2 separate regions of the Homo sapiens genome follow, and region 1 is linked to region 2. A link means that fine-mapping ties the variant in region 2 to the plasma level of a protein whose gene starts in the linked region. Region 2 holds a variant in brackets. A gene starts in the other region. All regions are shown on their reverse strands. Region 1 holds the start of CRLF1 (cytokine receptor like factor 1). Region 2 overlaps LOC124901137 (a long non-coding RNA gene).

The links. PIP is the chance, under the fine-mapping model, that this variant and not a neighbour inherited with it causes the effect. Protein levels are from antibody-based Olink assays in UK Biobank. Linkage for the fine-mapping came from a reference panel and not from the study's own genotypes, which makes the PIPs less certain.
Region 1: it holds the start of CRLF1, and the variant in region 2 is fine-mapped to the plasma level of the CRLF1 protein (UK Biobank, PIP above 0.99).

What each region holds. Positions count from the first base shown.
Region 1 is chr19:18,601,982-18,611,793 of GRCh38, reverse strand. CRLF1 (cytokine receptor like factor 1) reads left to right here and starts at 4,995. Exons shown (of 9, transcript NM_004750.5): 1 at 4,995-5,252. The coding sequence starts at 5,138. RefSeq lists an enhancer at 4,955-5,873.
Region 2 is chr5:173,330,887-173,340,893 of GRCh38, reverse strand. It overlaps LOC124901137 (a long non-coding RNA gene), which reads right to left. Exons shown (of 2, transcript XR_007059056.1): 2 at 5,772-6,084. Among named protein-coding and RNA genes, the nearest start is that of STC2, 7.5 kb to the right of the region's middle. RefSeq lists an enhancer at 8,811-8,950. The variant TA/A (reference allele first, on the strand shown) is at 4,242.

The DNA of each region.
Region 1 (9,812 bases), not on the chromosome of region 2:
CTGCGGCCGCGCTTTCATCTCAGCGGCCCCCGGCCGGCCCCCACGTGGCTTAATCAGGCGCGGCTGTGCCTGGCGGACCCCGAACATCTGGATCCCGGTGCGGCCCCTCCCCCGCCCCGCCCCGCCCCTCCCCTCCCCTCCCATGCTAGGCCGCTGCGACCCGGCGGCGAGGGCCTCCAGCCCGCAGTTTGCGCCAGAATCCAGCAGGAGAATTCCGCTTCTAACCCACCCGCGCGCCAGGCCCGCACCTTGGGAAACAGCCCTGTGCGTTATGACCAATACTGTCCCCCATTTCACAGGTGGGAAACTTAGGCTCCGGGACGCGTTGGCAAAGTCAGGATTCAAGCCCACACATGCTAATTCCAGAGGCCCGCGCGCGCCTAACCCCTCCACAATTACTGTCTTTCATTCATTCCAACGAAACACTTTTTCTTGCAACAACCGTATAAGACAGGTACCGGTAGCGTTGCCCTTTTATATGGGTGAGGAAACTGATGCTCAGACTGCAAAGTGGTTCTGTCCAGGTGACAGGGAGAGAAGCAAAGAAAAGCCGGCAGAGCCCTGCCAATGATGGGAGGTGACCTTTGGGCATTGCTTAAAACGCATCAGGGAGGAGGGACACCCCGCGCCCTTTTGCAGAAGGAGAAACTGAGGCTGGAGGAGTGGGTCGATCACCCAGGTCGCCTGAGGGGAGAAGGGAAAGAGGCTGATTGCCGCACACCCAGCCCCCTTTCCGCTGCACTAGGCCGCTGGGGGGGTGAGCGGAAAGAGGACTTGACCCCGGCCCCCAAGGTGAGCCCCCGCGCCCCTCCTGCTGTTCCCGGGGGAGCCGGTCCAGGTGAGGGGCGGGAGGGCCGGCGGGCGGCCAGGGTCGGGTTTCAGGAAATCCGCCGACATTCCTTCGGGGCTTAAGAGGGAAAGTTGACTCGGCGCCGCCCTCGCCCCCCCCCCCACTTCCTACCCCCCGGGGCGGCCTGGCTGGGGGCGGCAGGCGGGGGGCGCTGAGGCCGGCCTGGGCGTGAATCAGCGGCAGGCCAGGCGTCCGGGAAGCCACAGCAGCCGAGGTCAAGGCGGGCAGCGGACAAGCACCCTTTGTCCCTTGCCGCCCTCACCACGACCCTGCTGACCCCCACCTCCAAGCAGGGTACAGGCCAGGGAGGAGGCAGAGCACCATGGCGCCGGTGGTGGTTGCTGAGGGTTGTTGGGGGAGGACGGAGGGATGTGGCTGTCCCCCTAAAGCAGCTGGTGCCTCCTGGGACCCAGACTTCAGAGGCTTCTCAGGGTACAGACGGGCAGGGAAACTGGCCTCCCTGGGGCAGGCCTGCAACTTCCCAGGCAGGTCCCCTAGGCAGGTCTGCAACTCCCCAGGTCCCGCCTCCAGTGCCTGAAGTCCAGTGTGCATTACACTGAGCACCCAGGCATTGCTTCTCCCCAGGCTCAGCCTCCAGGGCAGAAATTATAAAGCCTAGGTACACACGGGCCCCACTTTCCTGTGCCACAGACCCTGAACCAGGTGTCCAGACCCTCACTGCCCCTTAATTCCTGAAAGCACCTGCCTGGAACACCAGGTAGCTAATCCCATACTGGGGAGCCCTGAGCACGGGGCTTTCAGAATGGGAGAGACAGCTCTCAGCCTTCCTCACTCCCAGTGGTTGTGGGTCCCCACAGGACCCTGAAGGTGCCATTTCCACTGCCCCCTCCCTGGTGCACCCTCAGTGCCCTGGAATCACGAGGGAGCTGGGGATGGAGGCCCCCCCCCCAACCTAATACCTCTCATCCAGAGGTGACCTTGGAGTGGAGGGTGCAGGACTAAGGAGGGGTCCCTCCCCCAGCCCAAGGGGAGGCCCTCCCTCTGCCCAAGGGGAGGCCCTCCCTCCTTCTGCCCCTTACACATTCCCAGCCAACTTCAAGGACTTGGGTCAATATTTGCCAGAAGTTCCATTGACGCTAGCTCCCTTTTGTCCTCAAGGAGATAATGGAACTGGGGAGTAAAGGGTTAAACTTCTGGGGGCCCTAAGGGCCGGGAAGGATGCACTCTGGGGTCAATTCCCTTTCCCTGAAGTCAAAGGTGTGGGGTAAAGATCACCCAAGGGCAGAAGTCACACTCCAGGGTGGGGCTGGGCAGGATTGGAAAATGGTCCTTCCCTTCTGTTGGTAAGAACAAGAGAGGGATGTCTACTGGCTAGGGTCACACAGCAAGACACAGAGTGTGGGCCAGGCTAGGACCCCAGGCAGCATGACTTGCTAGGACTGAGTTTTCTTGCTACTTGGAGGGAGTAAGAGTTCTCCATCCTTTACTTTTACAAATATTTAGTGAGTGCTTCGCTTTCAGCCCTCACTGGGCCCACCACTGGGGTCCAAAGGGGCTGAGGCTGCCCACAGTCTAAAGAAAATCAGTTGCACAAGAAATGAAATGGTTGGAAGAGTTGTGTTTCAAAAACAATAAAACAAAGTGAAGGAGAGGGAGAGTGCTGGGGGAAGGGTGGAGGGCCTCTCTGAGGAGGTGGCACTAATCCTGTGAAGTGATGGAAGAGAAAGGGCCAACTGGGGAAGATGTGGGGAACAGCATTCCAGCAGAGGGAACAGCCAACACGCAGAGGCCCTTCTATAGTAACAAGCCTGGTATGTTTTGGGAAACAGGGCTCCAGTGGCTGGGGCGGAATGAGGGAGAGGAGGGGGAAGAGGAGAGGGAAGAAGAGGAGGGGAGAGGATGGCGAGAGGGTGGCAGGACAAAGATCTGCTTTTTCTTCTTTTAAAAGCTCCCTCTGCCTGGTGTGCCGAGAAAGGCAGAAGGGTTATCAGGGAGGCCCTGGAGGAGGCCGGGAAGCATCCCTGAGGGAGACCGTGGGGCCTGGATCTGAATGGGGTGGGAAAAAGGGGTCAGCATCTCAGAATGGAGATGTGTTTTAGAATCAGAGCCAACAGGATTTGCTGATGAATTGGACATGAGGGATGAGCAAAGGAGAGAGTTGTCACGTGCGCTTCCAGGTCTCTGGCCTGAGCACCTGGATGGATGGGAGAGCCCTTTCCCAAAACCAAAATGACTGGAAGAGAAGCAGAAATGGAGGGAGGAAAAAATCAAGGTTTTGCTCCAGAAGCCTGAAGTCCTCCCAGGAGGGAGTGAGGCGTCTCTATCCACACAGAGAGCATCTGCAGACAGGAGCCATGGGGGAGTAGTGGTGAGTATCCTAAAAACTCAATTCCAGCCAAGGACTGCCACCTCCACTTAACCCTCTGGGTCCCCTGGCAGGTGGGACTATGGCTCCATGTTTCAGAGGGGACAAGCAGGGCTGGGGGTCACCTCTGCTCCAGGATATCCTCCAGTGCTGTGCTAAGGGCTTGGATTGTAGAGACTTCTGCTGCCCTGCGTCTTCCCACAGAAGCTCCTAGACTGGGTGGTGCCCACTGTGCAGAGGAAGAAACTGAGGCACAAAAGGCCTGGTTTCCCGAAGTAAATGGCAGCGTCTCTCCTTGTCTGTCTTCTCCATCCAGAATTCAGATGGAGCAGGGGCGCCCTGGGCCCCTATAGGCTCCCATCCCCCAATCTTGTTTTTTGACAGTCTGGAGTCTGAACTGGAGATTTAAGTAGGAGAGGGTGGGGCTTCAGTCTTGGGCAGACAAATGGGGGCTCCTGAGCCCCCCTCAGACACTTTTACCCCCTTGGCTGGTTGGGGACCAGGAGAGAGAATCCAGGCCTCTAAGGGACTCCTGGAAAAGGGGACTTGGAGCCGTTCCCTTCCCTGGGCGCTGCAGCTGGGGGCGGGGCTGCGACCAAAAGTGGGTAATTGCACCCCCCAACTCTCATTTCAGGCACCCCCATCCGCAGCAGCCTTGGAGGCCAGGAACCCTTTATTCCTGGGCGCCCGCATCGGGTGGGGACCGGGAGGAGGGAGATGAGACGCCCGGACCGGGAGGGGTCCCGAAACTCGAGCAATGGCCAAAAATAATAACACGGAGAAGGCTCTTTGCGCAAAAGAAGGAAGACAAACTATGCGTCGCTCCGGGCAGCCGGCGTTACCTGGAGTCGGCGGGCGGTGGCCGCCGAAGCGATTACTCACCGCGTGGCGCACCCCACCCGCGGGCCGCTGAGTGGATTTTTCCGTGGCGGGGTGTGAATAGGTCCCGGGGAAAGAGCTTCTTACCGCTCTCCTCCTGGGAATCCCTCTTACTGCGGTGCGGGACCCAGTTCCCGCGCAGGCCTGGGTCCCGGCTCCCACAGGGGACTACATCTCCCCGTCTGCCCACGCAGGAGCTCCCTCCCGAGGCCCCCGGGGCGCCCAGAGCAACCTCAAACCCATCCCGCGCGCGAAGGGGACAGCGCAGCCAGGGCGAAGGCGAGGGACTCCGTGCCTTCCTGCTTTTTCTCCTTTCTTCCAGCAAAGCCTGGGGCCGAGGCTACTCGCGGAGAATCGAAAAGAGGCAGGATGAGGTGGGAGGGCTGGAACCCGCGCGCCGAGGGCGTGGGGCTGGGGGTGACTTTTAGGCCCCTGGGAAGGCTGAGGGGCTGGAGATGGGGGTAGGCGGGACTCAAGGACCGCTCGGTGGGGGGGGCGGGGCCAGAGCTGGGGTGGGGGCCGAGACAGAAGATTGGGCCGTGGAAGGGGGAATGGAGGAGTGGGGCAGGGTTGGGGACCAAAGGGGCCACTGAAGAGGCACTGGGCTGAGAGGAGGGTGCAGGGAAGTGGGCAGGGTTATGGAAACGGGATTGGGGGTGCCGGGTCCCAGACTGGGGGTGGGAAGCCTGGAGCTGGCAGGGTTGGAGAGGGAGGTCCTGGGCCGGTAGGGGTTGAGTTAGGGGGCTTTGGGCCGCGGGATAGGGCGCGCGCGGTTCTCGGTGGGGCGGAGGCGGGACGGGCGGGGCGCGCGGTGCCCGCGGGCGGGCGGGCGGCGGGGAGGCCGGTGCGGGGCCCGCCGCCCCCCCGGGGCCGGGCCGGGCCGGGGGCGGGGCCGGGCGGGGCCAGCGGCGCATTAGCGCCTTGTCAATTCGGCTGCTCAGACTTGCTCCGGCCTCCGCGTCCGCGCCCAGCGACGTGCGGGCGGCCTGGCCCGCGCCCTCCCGCGCCCGGCCTGCGTCCCGCGCCCTGCGCCACCGCCGCCGAGCCGCAGCCCGCCGCGCGCCCCCGGCAGCGCCGGCCCCATGCCCGCCGGCCGCCGGGGCCCCGCCGCCCAATCCGCGCGGCGGCCGCCGCCGTTGCTGCCCCTGCTGCTGCTGCTCTGCGTCCTCGGGGCGCCGCGAGCCGGATCAGGAGCCCGTGAGTACCCGGCGCCCCACTCCTTCCCCCCTGCCAGAGCAGAGGGCGGGCGCCCCGGGGGCAGCCGCGGGGGGAGGGGGCGCGGGCGCCACCTGGACGGCCGGGGAACAAAGGAAGGCGCCCCCGGCGCAGCCCTCGGGGCGCCCTCACCTGCGGGGCACACGGCGCCGCAGTCCACTGTCCAGAGAGTCCTGCTTCCGCGCCCGAGGCCCTGTTACCTGGGCAGCTGGGCCGAGGGCGCCAGGCCAGGCCCCCGGGGGCTGGGGGGATCGCGGCCTGAGACCCTCTGCATGCCAGGACGTGGCGGGCGCACGCGTCTGCTTCGGTGGACTCTGGGCCCCTGGGACTGCAGGGCACCGCTCCCAGGCGGGGGCGCACGCGGTTGGCGCGCTGGGTGCGGGCCCCCAGCGGGCCCCCCCAGGCGGAGGGATGAGCCCCACGGGGAGGGCGGGGCTGCAGGGGGGCCGCTCTGGCCGCCTGGCGCGCAGCCCGGGGTCCCGGGGGACTTGTGTCTCCACGGGCCGGCGCCACCGCCCTCCCCCTGCGGGACCCGGCGCACGGGGGTCCGCGGAGTCCCCGCCACCGGCGGCGCTTAGAACCGTTTTCAGCCAGGCTGCGTCGGGCGGAGAGCCTCCAGCGAGAGGAATCTTTGTGAGCGAGTGGGTGAGAGGGAGAGGGAGCGGGAGCCAGTGAGTCCGGGCACCAGCGGGCCCAAACTTTGAGGGGGCCCACTGGGAACCCGCTGCCCTACGGGCCAAGACCCCTGCCCTGGAGGGACTTCTGGCCTCAGGCACTCTGGGGCCCCCCATCCAAGGAACACCCCCGCAAGGATACGTCTCCGTATGCAGACCCGCTCTGGGACACACCCAGAGACACACAAAGAATCACACTGGCTTGTGGCCCGTCACCCTCGCCCTCAAACTCGCGCACACTGCATCCCAGGTGCACATTCGCGCACCATCGCGGACGCACACACATTCCATCCCCGACACACACATTCACGGTCACACACATCCCACAGGGGAGGCGACCCAGGGGCACAGAGGCAGGCACCACTCGCCCCAGATGTTCAGTCACTCCACGCACCCCATCCAGGCGCACGGGCCACCCCGGGGGTCGCCGGGCACACACTGCTCCCAGGCTCATCCACCCTGTGCTGGGCTGTTTGCGGGCTGCCTGTAGGGCTCCTCCGGGAAGGGGCAGGGTCCGGGCATCTTCTAGGGGCACTTGCTGAAAGCCTGGCTCTCCCCTGGCTTTCAGGTGAGGGGCTACCTCGGGCCCTCCCAGGGCCCCTGACGGCTCTGCCAGGCGGTGGGCAGCGCCTGTGAGTGCCACTGTGAGCGCCAAGCTTTGTTTTCAGCCAGTAGAGCAGCAGGCGAAGGTGTAGGGGGTGGGGGGGCACTGTAAGTGTGTTTTTTCCTTTAAGGGGGGAAGAAATTAAATAAAAGATTCTCACACCTCGGCAATATGTTTCTACTTACGGTGTGTCTTAGCACCTGACCAGCAGGCGGGTGGGTCGTAAAGTGTCTGCAGGTACCAGCGGGACGGGAGATGGGGACCCCCGTGGGGACCCTGGGATGGAGGCCACCCTTCCGCCCTGCTTGCAGAGAATCTCACACTTTTCCCTTTTAAAACACATGGTGTTCCTTTTTAATAACGGCAGTGGCTCCAGATTGGGAAAAGAGGAGAGAAAAAACTTTTAAAGGCCCCAGCTCTGCGGGAAAGGAGGGGAGGCAGGGAGTGAAAAGGGAGCTGTTCAAAAGCCCAACCTAGGGATCTGCTTTGGGGAGCCCTAGGAGGCCCTCCAAACCAAGCCAAGCCCCCACCAACTCCGGCTCAGTGGGCTGTTCCCAGCTGCTCCCCTGCCTGGCCTGGAGTGCGTGCATCTCTGTCCCCAGCGCCTTAGCCCATTGTTTGTGGAGGCCTGGAGGGAGTGCCTAGTCAGCCGGGACCCCAGAGCTGGGAGGGGCTGTCATCTTTGCAGCTCCTGGGGGCTTCAGGCTTCTGAGCCCTCTGGACATTGGATTGCAATCACATCTCATTGATCTCCCCAGCAAGTAGAACGTATTTCTCCTCCCATTTTATGGAGGAGAAAATTGAGAACTGGAGAGGGGAAGTCAATTGGCCAGGTTCTCCCACTGGTGTTGCGCCCATATCCCGGGAGGAGAAAGTGTCCTTCTGACCTTACCGGCTGGGGCTAAGGGGGTGGGAGATTGGTCTGTCCAGGCCCGCCTGGCCTTGCCTTCCCCCTACAACCCGTCGCCGCCCGGTGTCCCCCGCCCAGCCCCGGGAGGGCAGCTGCAGCTGCTGGCAAGTGAGCCACGCCGGCCCAGGCCAGGCGGGTGTGGCAGAGGGGCAGCGCCCCCCAGCCAGGACCCCCCAGAGAGCCCCTTCCTGCCCAGGCCAAGCTGGCGGGTGGTGGGGGCAGGAGGAGTGAGACCCACTCTAGAAGGGCTGAGAGGGGCCTGGGGTCTGGGCAGGCCTGGCCGTGCCTCCCACTCTGTTGGGGGGGCCCAGGCAGGAAGCGGTGGGTGGGCCGGGGCAGAGACGCTGGCACACCCGAGTTCATGCAAAAGGAATTCCGAATTAGCGGGCGGCTGGCTGCCTGGGACCTCCAGGGCGGTCCCCTGGCCCCCAGCCCCCCGCCCCCCTCGGCCGCCCCCGCCTCCTCGGCTCTGGCCCGCTCAGCCGGCTCCTTCGCACGGACGCGGAGACCTCCGGCGAGCCCTGGGCCAAGCCCCAAGCGCAACTGCGATTCCAGGCTCCAGCGAGACAGAGCCCTCGAGCCAAGTTTGCCCCGGAAAATCATCAGGGCCGGCCCAAGAACCGTGTCCACCCCACCTCGCCCATCTGGGGCAGTGAGGGCAAGTGCAGGGCAGCGCTGGCATTCAGGGGGCCTCCCTGGGGGCCAGGATCACCCTGTCCTTGGCTGCCATCTCTGCGAAGCTGGGCTGCCCCTGCCTCCTGCAGTCCCTTCTTCCAGCCGCCTGGGGAGTCCTTTTAACGCATATCTCACCGCATCCCTCCCTCCCCGGCTGAGAACCCTGGAATCCCTCCTCCCTGCAGGTCAGGGTCTCTGACCTCTCAAACCTCATTTCCCACCGCTTCTGCCCCAGGACCTTGGCACTTGCAGCTCCCACTGCCTGGACATGCTCTGTTAGATAATGTCACAGCTACTTCTCTTACTTTATTCAGGTCTCTGCTCAAAGGTCACCTCCCCAGACAGGCCTCCCAAGCTTCTGCCGCTGCTCTGTCTTCCTCCAGCCCCTGCTTTACTTTCTCCCCTAGTTATTGTCTTAGATATTTATTTATTCCTTTTTCCTGCTGCTTCCTTGGATTTGATGCCCACAAGGGCAGGACTTTTGTGTGTCTTGGGCATCACCCCAGTGCCCACAGATCCGGACACACTATAGGTACCCTGTGAATGAATAGATGAACGCGTGAACGAACAAAGGCGTGGATGAGTCTTTACAACCACTCTGTGTGGAACGAGAAGCCCCTTTCCAGAGGCTCAAAGAAGTAAAACACTGAGGCCGGGTGCAGTGGCTCACGCCTGTCATCCCAGCACTTTGGGAGGCCAAGGCGGGTGGATCACTGGAGGTCAAGAGTTCGAGACCAGCCTGGCCAACATGGCGAAACTCCGTCTCTCCTAAAAATACAAAAATTAGCTGGGTGTGGAGGTTATGGTGAGCCGAGATTGTGCCACTGCACTCCAGCCTGGGTGACAGAGTGAGACTCTGTCTCAAAAAAAAAAAAAAGTAGAACACTGAGTCAGGCTGGGGGCATTCGAGTCCAGGTCAACTTGGTTTAAAGATCTCATGGGAAAATATTGTCTCCAACAATATTTTCACTCCTCTCAAACAACCTCATGAGGTTTGTTTTGTTGGTTTTTATAAATTTAAATCTAAATTTTTTATTTCTTTTTTGAGACAGGGTCTCACTGTCACCCAGGCTGGAGTGCAGTGGTGCAGTCATGGCTCACTGCAGCCTCAACTTCCCGGGCTCCAGCGATCCTCCTGCCTCAGCCTCCCAAGTAGCTAAGACCACAGGCATGGGGCCACCACCCCCTCCCCACCTGGCTAATTTTTGTATTTTTGGTAGAGACAGGGTTTCACCATGTTGCCCAGGCTGTCTCAAACTCTTGACCTCACGTGATCCTCCCACCTCAGCCTCTCAAAGTGCTGGGATTACAGGCATGAGCCACCGCACCCAGCCAACCCCATGACATTGACGCCATGATGTCCACTTTCCAGATGGGGAAACTGAGACTCAGAGAGGCATTGGGAGGTTGGCCTGTGCACCCCCTCCTCCTCTGGGCCTTGGTTTCCCTATGGACAAGGTTCTGGTCTCCAGAAGGGGAACTCCTGGGCTGCCCTGATGGCCAGCAGGAGAGAGAGGCATCAACCACCCATGGGCGTCCCCAAGTTTCCTGTGCCTAGTACCTGACTCACACACAACCTGGTTCAGGAAGTCCTTTCCCCTCTGACTTTCACAATACCCCAGGAGACAAAGAGCTTTCTCGTTCTCACTTTGCAGATGAGGAAAACTGAGTGGAGGGAA
Region 2 (10,007 bases):
CCACAGGGTCCCAGGGTGGGCTCCAGTTCACACCACATGACCACAGACATCGGAGTAGGGATCGGAGCCAATCAGATTCTCCTCTGGAATTAGAAACTATTACGAATTTGGAACCGGAGCTGAGAGACTCCAGCTCGCTCTGGGCTGGGCTCTGTACAGCAGAGGTGCAACATTCCAGAGTTAGGGGAGGCCATTTCCTGCCAGGTGGCCCAGAGCCACGGAGGAGGCAGAGCTGCAAACAGGAGCAGAGACGTGAAGGGAGATAAGCACTGCCCAGGCCACCACAGTCTATCCAGGCCCTAAAAGCCGTGCCCTTGCCCAGCCTTTGCCCAGTGCTTCCTCTGCCTAGCGTACCCTCCCTGCCCTTCTCCTCCAAGTCCTACAGGGCTCAAGAGTTCCATCATGTTTTACAATAAAATCCATACTCCTTCCCCTGGCCCTTGACCCTAGGGCACTCATTCTTGCCACCCTCCTAGCACTCGCTAGGCTCTGGCCACACCAACTGTCTTAGTCTGTTTTCTGTTGCTTATAGCTGAATACCTGAAACTGGGTCATTTATAAAGACAAGAAACATATTTCTTACAGTTATGGAAGCCAAGAGATCCAAGGTCGAGGGGGAGCATCTGCCAAGGCCTTCTTGCTGCTTGGGACTCTCCGCAGAGTCTCATGGCAGCGCAGGGCATCACATAATGAGGAGGCTGAGCATGCAGGCCCAGGTCTTTTTTTTCTCATAAAACCACTAGTTCCCCTCCCATGATAACCCATTCATCCATTAACCCACAAGTGAATTAATCCATTCATGAGGGCAGAGCTCTCATAACCCACCACCTCTTAAAAGCCCCACTTCTCAATCCTGCTACATTGGGGATTACATTTCAACATGAGTTTTGGAGGGGACATACATTCCCACCACAGTGCCAACCCATTTTCCATTATTTGAACAGGCCAACTTATCCCAGCCCCAGGGCCTCTGCACTTGCACTGCTTTTCCCTGGCTGGCTTTTTTGTGTCTTTCAAGTTCCTGGAGAAATGACCCCAGTTCAGTCATTGCCTGACCACCCTGACTAGCATAGGACCTTAGTCACGTCCCTTTTCTTGTTACTTGATTGGCTGCATGTGACCAGCTGGTTTGTCCATCTAAGTCAACCTGTGTCCCCCAAATCCCCACACAGCACCCAGCACATCAAAGGTACTCATCAGCTGTTTGTTGATAAATGACTGAGCTATGAGGCTCTGGCCTCCACTAGTCCCGCTGGAGAGCCACACTGCTGCAGGTAAAAGGAGAAAGGGTGACACTCAACAGGGCCATCACCATTAGCTTGGCCCATGTTCAGAAGTTTCTCCATCAGCGAGCCGGCTCAAGCAAGTCCTCCTAAGGAAACACAAGTCAGTGAAGAACTTGACAAATGGATCCCACGGCTGGTCAAAAGACGGTCACACTCTAAAATATGCACGACCAGATTTCGTGCACCGCTCAAGTTTTATCTTTGACCGTACTTATGGAAACATTATTCAAGAACATCGTGAACACACAAAAATAAATCTTTAAAAATACCATTTGGACGACATACACATACCAATGAAAGATTTTCTCTTTCTACTACAGCAGCCCATTAAGGCGTTTTCAAAGAGCAAATGTGGTAAGTTACTGCACACAGTAACCCGCAAATAAAAACGTACCCAGTTACGACCCACACAGCTTCCTCACAAATCAAAGCCACCCCAATCTCCAAGTCTAGATGGAGCCACCCAACCGGGGGGAACGGGGGAACAGCTCACTGACTCTGTTTCCTTGCTTCCTGCCTTCTGAGGATTTGAAGACAGTGCCCAAAGGAACAGAAAGTCACAACTCTTACTGAGACTCAGATTCCTGTCACAGAATGGCCACAGCCACTACCCCCTGCTTTGATCAGTGAGGGAATCAATGGCTATGCAGTGCCTGCCAGGCGCCAAACACTGAGCAACATTTGCGACACATGATCACATTTAACCCCATGACAACCTATAAAGTACATAGTGTTATTCCTGTGCCTATGTTGACCCGATTGAAGCTCAGAGAGGTTAAGTAATCTGGTCATGGTCACACAGCTAATCCACATCAAGGCTGAGACTCGAATCCCTCGACACCTAGCTCCAAGCCCCTACCCTTCCCACCCACACCAAAGCCATCCCCACTTGCGCACCCCATAGATCATCTCTCCTTGCCCTCGAACCTTTCCCCATGTGGCTGCCATCAGCAAACTGAAGTCAAGGGCCTAACATCTTCCTCTTTTCTGTCTTCCCTAAACACCCACCACATGCTGGGCCTCCAGTGCTCACCGTATGGGAATGGCTTGGCCAGGCTGAGCTGTGCTGATCCATGGCCACCTCCCTCTGCCCCGCCTCGCTTTTCTTCTGCCTCCCCCAAGGGAACTGTTTTCTTCTTTTTTTTTCTTCATCAATTATAAGCCTTCTTGCTTTAGTTTAGTGTGCCTAATTTATCTTGTTACCCACATCTTTTTGTTGATAACCTTGCCAAAAAACAAGAATAATTTAAATATGTTCTTTGTCTTTCTTTTAGTTTATAATCCTACCTTTGTTTCTTTTCATTTGTTCCCTCTGAGCCCTTTCTTCTAGTTATATTTTTATCTCTCCCTAGTTCTTCTGCCTTTCTCGAGGTTTTAAGATCTTAGGGAGAAAATATATACATACGCACATATATATGGCTTAGCCTATATATATATATATATATATATATATATATATATATATATATATATACACGTGCAAACTAAGCTCAGTTTGATCAGCATCAAAATGAAAGTGTTTTGCAACATGATTCGTCATCCTTATTGTTCACTGGTAAAGGTGGAGAAAATGGGTCATGACTTCTAAAACCATAATAAAATACAAAGATCTGGGGATTTGAATACCCAGGTTCAAATTTGGACTTAGAGCCTTCCAGCTGTGTGGGCCTCAGACAAGAATCTCTGTGCTCGAGGTTTTAATCTGTAAAATGGGAATAATCATTCTACTCCCTTCCAAGGTTGTAGAGAGGTCTAAAGGGGCCATGTCTACAAAAGCACTTTTAACCTATAAATAATCTCCGCATAAAGCAGTATGGAATGAGGAAGTGCTACAAGAGTAAGGAGGATCTGAATTGTCTATTGTACATCTCACCTGAATGGCCTGCTCATCCCTTGCTTTCGACACCTTCCTCTGCAAACTGGGCTCCCCCTCTCTGAGTCCCAGTTCCGCAAACGGAACTAGGGGCCTTTTGTCATCCAACACACACACACACAACCACACACACACAGGCGCACATACACACATTTAAAGCTGTGTGTCAACCATTGTAGTGGGTGCTGGGGATTGGACGTTGAACATGGCAGGCAACGTCCTCTCCATCAGGGAATTTATCATTCATTTTGGGTAGGAGAAGGAATAAGGCAAGAAACCATTAAAACAAATAAATAAACAAGGTAATAACTGGGCGAGACCTCTGATTTGCAGGAACAGCCTACATTAAGACCCTAAAGCAGGGGGAAAAGCTTGGCTAATTTGCAGTAAAGAAAAAAGGCACCAGGGCCAGGCACAGCGACTCACGCCTATAATCCCAGCACTTTGGGAGGCCAAGGCGGGCGGATCACGAGGTCAGGAGATTGAGACTATCCTAGCTAACATGGTGAAACCCCATCTCTACCAAAAATACAAAAAATTAGCCGGGTGTGGTGGCGGGCGCCTGTAGTCCCAGCTAGTCTGGAGGCTGAGGCAGGAGAATGGTGTTAACCCGGGAGGCGGAGCTTGCAGTGAGCCGAGATCACGCCACTGCACTCCAGCCTGGGCGACAGAGCGAGACTCCATCTCAAAAAAAAAAAAATTTAAAAAAATGCAACCTTAGCCGGGCGTGGTAGTGCATGCCTGTAATCCCAGCTACTCAGGAGGCTGAGGCAGGAGAATCATTTGAACCCGGGAGGCAGAGGTTGTAGTGAGCCAAGATCACACCACTGCACTCCAGCCTGGGCAACAAGAGCGAAACTCCATCTCAAAAAAAAGAAAGAAAAAAAAAAGGCACCAGAAGGGAATGAGGAAATGAGAGAGTAGGTTCCATGAGATCTGCACACCAGCAGGGCCAGATCTCCCAGGGCCTTCCATGTGGACAGGAGTGGATTTTATTCCAAGGAGGCCTCTGGAGTTAAGCAAGTGAGAGGTATGATTTGGTTTGGGGGCTTTTCGTTTGGTGGTTTGGTTTTTTTTTTTTT[TA/A]ATCATTATTAATCTGGCTACATATGATGCAGAGAATTTGGATTGGAGAGAGTATTGGCAAGTGAAAGTGGACACAAGAAACCAGCTGGTTAACCCGGCAGTGGTTCAAGACAGAGTTAACTGAGGCTTGGAGGGTGGAAATGGGAAGAGGAAAACAGCAAGAATTGATGGTGAGTTTCATGCCGAGGTGTGAAGGAAAGGAGGATACCAAACATCACTCCTGGGGTCTTTGCTGGAGATGGGGGATGGCGAAGGAGGGGTGGGAAAGGTGTTATAGGACAGGAGGGAGGGAAAGGTGACAAGGGGATAATCAAAGAGAGGCTTTAAACTGCCATCGTTTTTCTCACTTACGCTTTCTGTGCGAAACTTGGTTATCATGCCAGTTTGTCCCTACACGCTCCTCAAAATCACCTCTTCCTTCCCATTTCCAATTTACCACCTGACTTCTCAATGGGTCCCTGACTCAGGGGTCTCCCCTCCAATCCATCTGCAGTTCCCACGTCCTCAGGACTTCCTGGAACAATGCACTCTCCTTTATTGTTTAAGAGGTTTGCGCTGGGCTTTCTGTTACTTGCAGATGAAGCCAGATATACCAAGTCCTGGGGTCTAACCCCAGTCAAGGTTCCAACTGTGGGTCCTCTCCTCCCCGAAACACGGTCCCTCCTAGCCATGCCAAATCACCCAGCTTCTGCAACATGCTGCTTGCTCGCTCCTCTAGGCCTCTGCGTGTGTTGGTCCATCTGCCTGGATTCTTCTTTCTCCTCTTCTCCATCCTCGAAATGCCACCCTCCAATTCTCCAGGATCCAATTTCTACTTTTTTAAGTGAGTATAAAAACTAACATTTTTCATCGTTGACACCTTTCCCATGTCCCTCACCCATTCTCCTGGTTCATCTGTATCGTAACTCCTGCCATGTGATGCTATAAAAATTACTGCTTCCTCCCTCTGGATTGCTACCACAATAAGGGCAGCAACTGTGTCTATCTTTTCCGTTTCCCAGGATGCAACACCTAATCTAGTACACAGACATGCACAAGAGTTTGTTGAATGAATGAATATATGTCAGAGTGGGTTAGATTCTAAAATCTTCAAAGTGAAAAGCTTCTGTGGTCAAAATTAATCTTAAAACGTCTGTAAAATATTCATTAAGATATAATGTCCATGAGATATTCTATCAGTCCTGTATAGTAATTCTTATCACCACCAGAATTTGAGAAGAACTGAGTTACACCAAAGAAAGGAATAAACAGAGAGGCTGTGTGACGATGTCTCACATTCAAACCATCCATCTTTAAAGTAATCATCAATCAATGGTGGGCCTGTGTAAGAAAGGGCTGGGAATGGATGGAGACCTCTACAGTGACTCCCATTTGCTAAAGGAGTTTACTTCATTTTTGTTTTAATATTTTGCCCCTAAACTCTTAGCCCCCGGTGTAGCAGGAAAATGTCATCATCATCTTTTACCATCAGGGTCCAATGGATCCTTTCTATGTTTATGAATAAATCTACAGAAGTAAGACTAAAAGGATCGTTTTTTAAAACTTTATTAGAGACGTTAGTAATAGCAAATTTTCACAGCATATTTTCCTGGTTTTGAGTGTAGATAGGCCCAAAATGAGCAATGTCCTCTGCATGCAACTAACTGCTCACCAGCTGTCATGCATAAGCCTGGGACAGACCCATCTTATAAACACCAAGTCCTGATTTCAAGGAAATCTCTGATAAGTTCTAGCTCATCATTACTTCTGGTTCTTCTTCCACTTGCATCATAAAACTTATTACCTTTGAAACCTCTGACAGTTCATAATTTTGTTCAGGAGAAGATGGTCATCTTCTTTTCTCTGTAATTGAAAAGCATTTTTATTTTTAAATTTATAAACACCAATTAGAATGTTTAGTCCAGTGATTTTTTTCTTTCCTTTCCATACCACCTATTTCTTTTCAATCATCTTTGTACTCACCTTTGATCTGACTTCATCATTTGTCCCCTTCAAACTGTATCAAGAAAATTTCAATAAACAAACATAAAAAGTAAAAAAAAAAAAAATTGGCCCCCATTCTTTTAGCAAAACAGGATGCTCCAAGTTTTTGCGGCAAAATATAGTGTGATGAAATCATTCCTGTTGAATGACTAACAGGATGAGAATATCATATTTTTTGTTATCCTTAGAAATATATTGTTTACTCATGAATCCTTAAATCTGAGGAAATTAATCTAGGTTATTATCATGTAGGACTCATAGTCTGAGACTTTGCTTATACACTTCAGTCAGTTTCGCCATTATCGAGTCTTCCATAGTGCTGTCTCTCTGCATTCATCTTCTGATTTGACTAATAACTGTACAACATTTTCCTCTGTCACTTTTCTTCTCTTTACAGTTTGTGCAGAAAAATGAAAAATATAGCTGAATTTACAACTATATTTGATAAAAGTAAGAAGAAGAAGACTACAAAAATGGTATCCTCTGTCTTCTTTTATACTTTCTCGAGAAATGATGTAATACTTCAGGCAATGTGATCAAAAACCTGAAGGATGATACAACAGTGATAATTTGTTTCATTCTTGCATCATCCTTCTAGGTGATTCCATGATTCTCCCATTTCTTATTGGTGTTTTTTTTTTTTTTACCATAATTGGCAATAATTGATGAGTAATGATGAAATAATTTCTAGGGTGATAAAATGGAAGATGTTTAAAGATATAAGAAAATTAAGATCTCTAAGATCCTATGATACATCATCAATTTATAAATTATTTCAATAGTCATATGGTAACTTCAAGATAGAATGAGTTTTATTCTATTTTTGTTAAAAACTAGATGTTATCTTTCATCTTCAGAAGACTTCTGAAAACAAACAAAAGTCATGAAATACCAATCCTTACAAATTGTTAGAATTTCTCAGGAAAAAAAAAAACACCTTCAAAATCTAAAATTGGGTCCGATGGACCCTGATAACATACTGAAAGTTAAATCACATTAATAGATTTGGTCGTTTCCTGGAGCTTTCAAAATGTGGCTCCCTAGAAAACTGCCCCACAAAAAGATTCTTCCTTCAGCCACTTGACATCCAACCATTCTCCAACCAAAGTTAAAACCCACCCAGAGAGAGCTCTATCATACTATTCCAGCACCACAATGCCTGCCTCTGGGCCCAACCAGTACTCTCCATGGAAGCCAGGCAGCCCCTTGCCTGGGATACGTTCTCCTGGAGTTTGTCTCAAGATACAACAAGGAAGAAAAAATTATGACCCATGTAAAACAGAGAGGCCTTCTGGAATACCATTCAGGCTTCAGAGAAAGGCGTTAACAAAACTCAGACTACAGTCAGATGCCCAGTGTTTACTACTTTATATTCCTTCCAGTAAATGGGTTTATTGTGTTCCTACTCTCTTGGGGGTTTTTTTAATGCTTTTTTTTCTTTTGTATTTCCAGTCAATCCATGAATGGTTTGACTATTGATCTGTGACAGAGAGGAAATGCCCAATTCACAAAAGCGTTGTGTTCCCACACTTCCAAAGTTGGTTGTTTGGGGAACTCAGAATATATTTTCTTCCAAGAAACAATATTATACATGATAGGTTTACAGGCCAGCACCACAAAATCCTTCTTAACTCATTGTGTTGTTGGGCACTGCACTTTTATGGTATAAATTAGTAGAATATAATTTGGTTATAGTATTAAGAATAAACAAACCCAAATATTGAAGATATAATCTCCTTTATCCTGAATTATATTTAATGAAATAACCAGTTTAATGAAAAAAAGATAAGAGCAAAGATAGAGGCTTTTTTTTTTTTGAGACAGGGTCTTGCTCTGTCACCCAGGCTGGAGTACAGTGGTGCAATCATAGCTCACTGCAGCCTCAACCTCCTGGACTCAAGCCATTCTCCCAGAACCTCAGTCTCCCGAGTAGCTGCGATTACAAGCACATACCACCACGTCTGGCTAATGTTTGTATTTTCTGTAGAGACGGGGTCTTGCCATGTTGCCCAGGTTGGTCTCGAATTCCCGGGCTCAAGCGATCTACCTACCTCAGCCTCCCAAAGTGCTGGGAGATGGAGGCTTTTTAGGGAGAGACCTCTGCTTGCAAGATAATTTGGGAGGCCTGATAGCAGCAGTTTGTTATTTTTTTCTGTCCGGTTTCACCTTGATACCTTTTTTCATTTTCCTTCATACAGGTATGATGCACAGGAGCCAGGATTAGGGTAAATTTGAGACTCACAAAGGAAAACAGCAACGGATAGGGGAGCAAGAGGGAAAATAAGTGTGAAAGAGATCTCTTTGATGGGGGGATTAAGGCATGTTATTGCGAGGAGATTGGCTAAATCTGCATTAATTGATTTGCTAAGAAAAGGAAAGGAAACTGGGGAGAAGGCTGGAGACCCAATATCAGAACTTTCCAGGCAGGCAGAGTCGTGAGGACTGTGTAGCCAGACAGTTCCCTCTCTGACCATAAGGTGGTGCCATCAGCCCAGACAGTCGGCCCCAAGGGGGCGGGGCGTGCAGTGGGTGGAGCTCCCCACGTGTAAGCCATGTTCTCCACTCAGGTTCCGGAACTCAGAAAGCCTGGACCAGGCAGCACGTGTCAACTTGCACATCACTGACTCAGCACCCACGAACTATGCCCATCCGCTAAAGCCCCTTCGGCTCACACTCGAGCAAGAACACGTCTGTCTTGCTGGGCATCGAGACGCACGTGAAGATTCCAACTAATTCCTTCCCACTCCTCTGCTCTTTCTCCACAATGGCAGCTCTGGGCCCCTGAGCATTTCCTAATTCCTAAAGAGAACCTAGTCTAAAGCGCCCTACAGTCTCATCCTTAAATACCGTCAGATCTTCCGTGAGGAGCACAGATTTGTCACAAGGAGCCCAGCCTTCACAACATGCCCTGGCCGACTTCCCCAGTTTGATGTCCCACTTTCACACCTAACTGGGCAACCCCTATTCCTGATACAAATCCCACCGGATCCTCTCCATGCATTTAGCCCTGCTGGTCCTCCCACCTCCCATGCCCACTTTTTTCCTTGCCTCTACTTGTCACTATCCTCCCCCATCCTTCATGGTCTAACCCAAATATCCCCTCCCCCAAAACCTGCCACTCAGTGTTGACCGCATGTAACTAGCAAAGTGGATTTAGACAGGAAAACATGGGCTCCAGGCGTCAACCACAGAAGGCCCTGGATGACACAAGGTAGGTCATGTCTGCCTCTTCCTGGCTGTGTATGCGTTAAATTGAGGAGGAGGGCCCATCCAGACAGGTGCTGCTGAACCTCAGGACAGCAGCTGGTCCATCCAGGAGACCTCCCAGGCCTCAGTTCCCATCTAGGGAGGGCCCTAGGTCTGGAGGGACACCAAAGGCATGAGTGTGGTGTGTGGTGCGGTGTCATGTTAGCTATATAATAGTAATAATGATTATTATTACTGTCCCCTGCCCCACCCTCATCAGCCACAGTCTGCCAAACTTGGCCTCAGTTATAAAGCTAAAGGAATCAGCCAGAGAGAGGGGGAGTCAATCACAACAAAGTCACCAGTCTGAGCCCCCATCCCACTTCTACCCCTGCGGCCTAGACTGGCCATTTCAGCAAACTGCCTAGTGATTCTGCAAGGGAATTTTCACAGCCTTGGCGGGTCGGACTCAGATGGGCATTCTTATCTGGATGCTTTGGACTTGGCTAAGTGGCCCAGAGATAAACCCTTAAGAACTAGTGCCTGTGCTTACGCCACCTCCAATTCTAGCTACTATGTGTTCTTTTGGTTCTAAA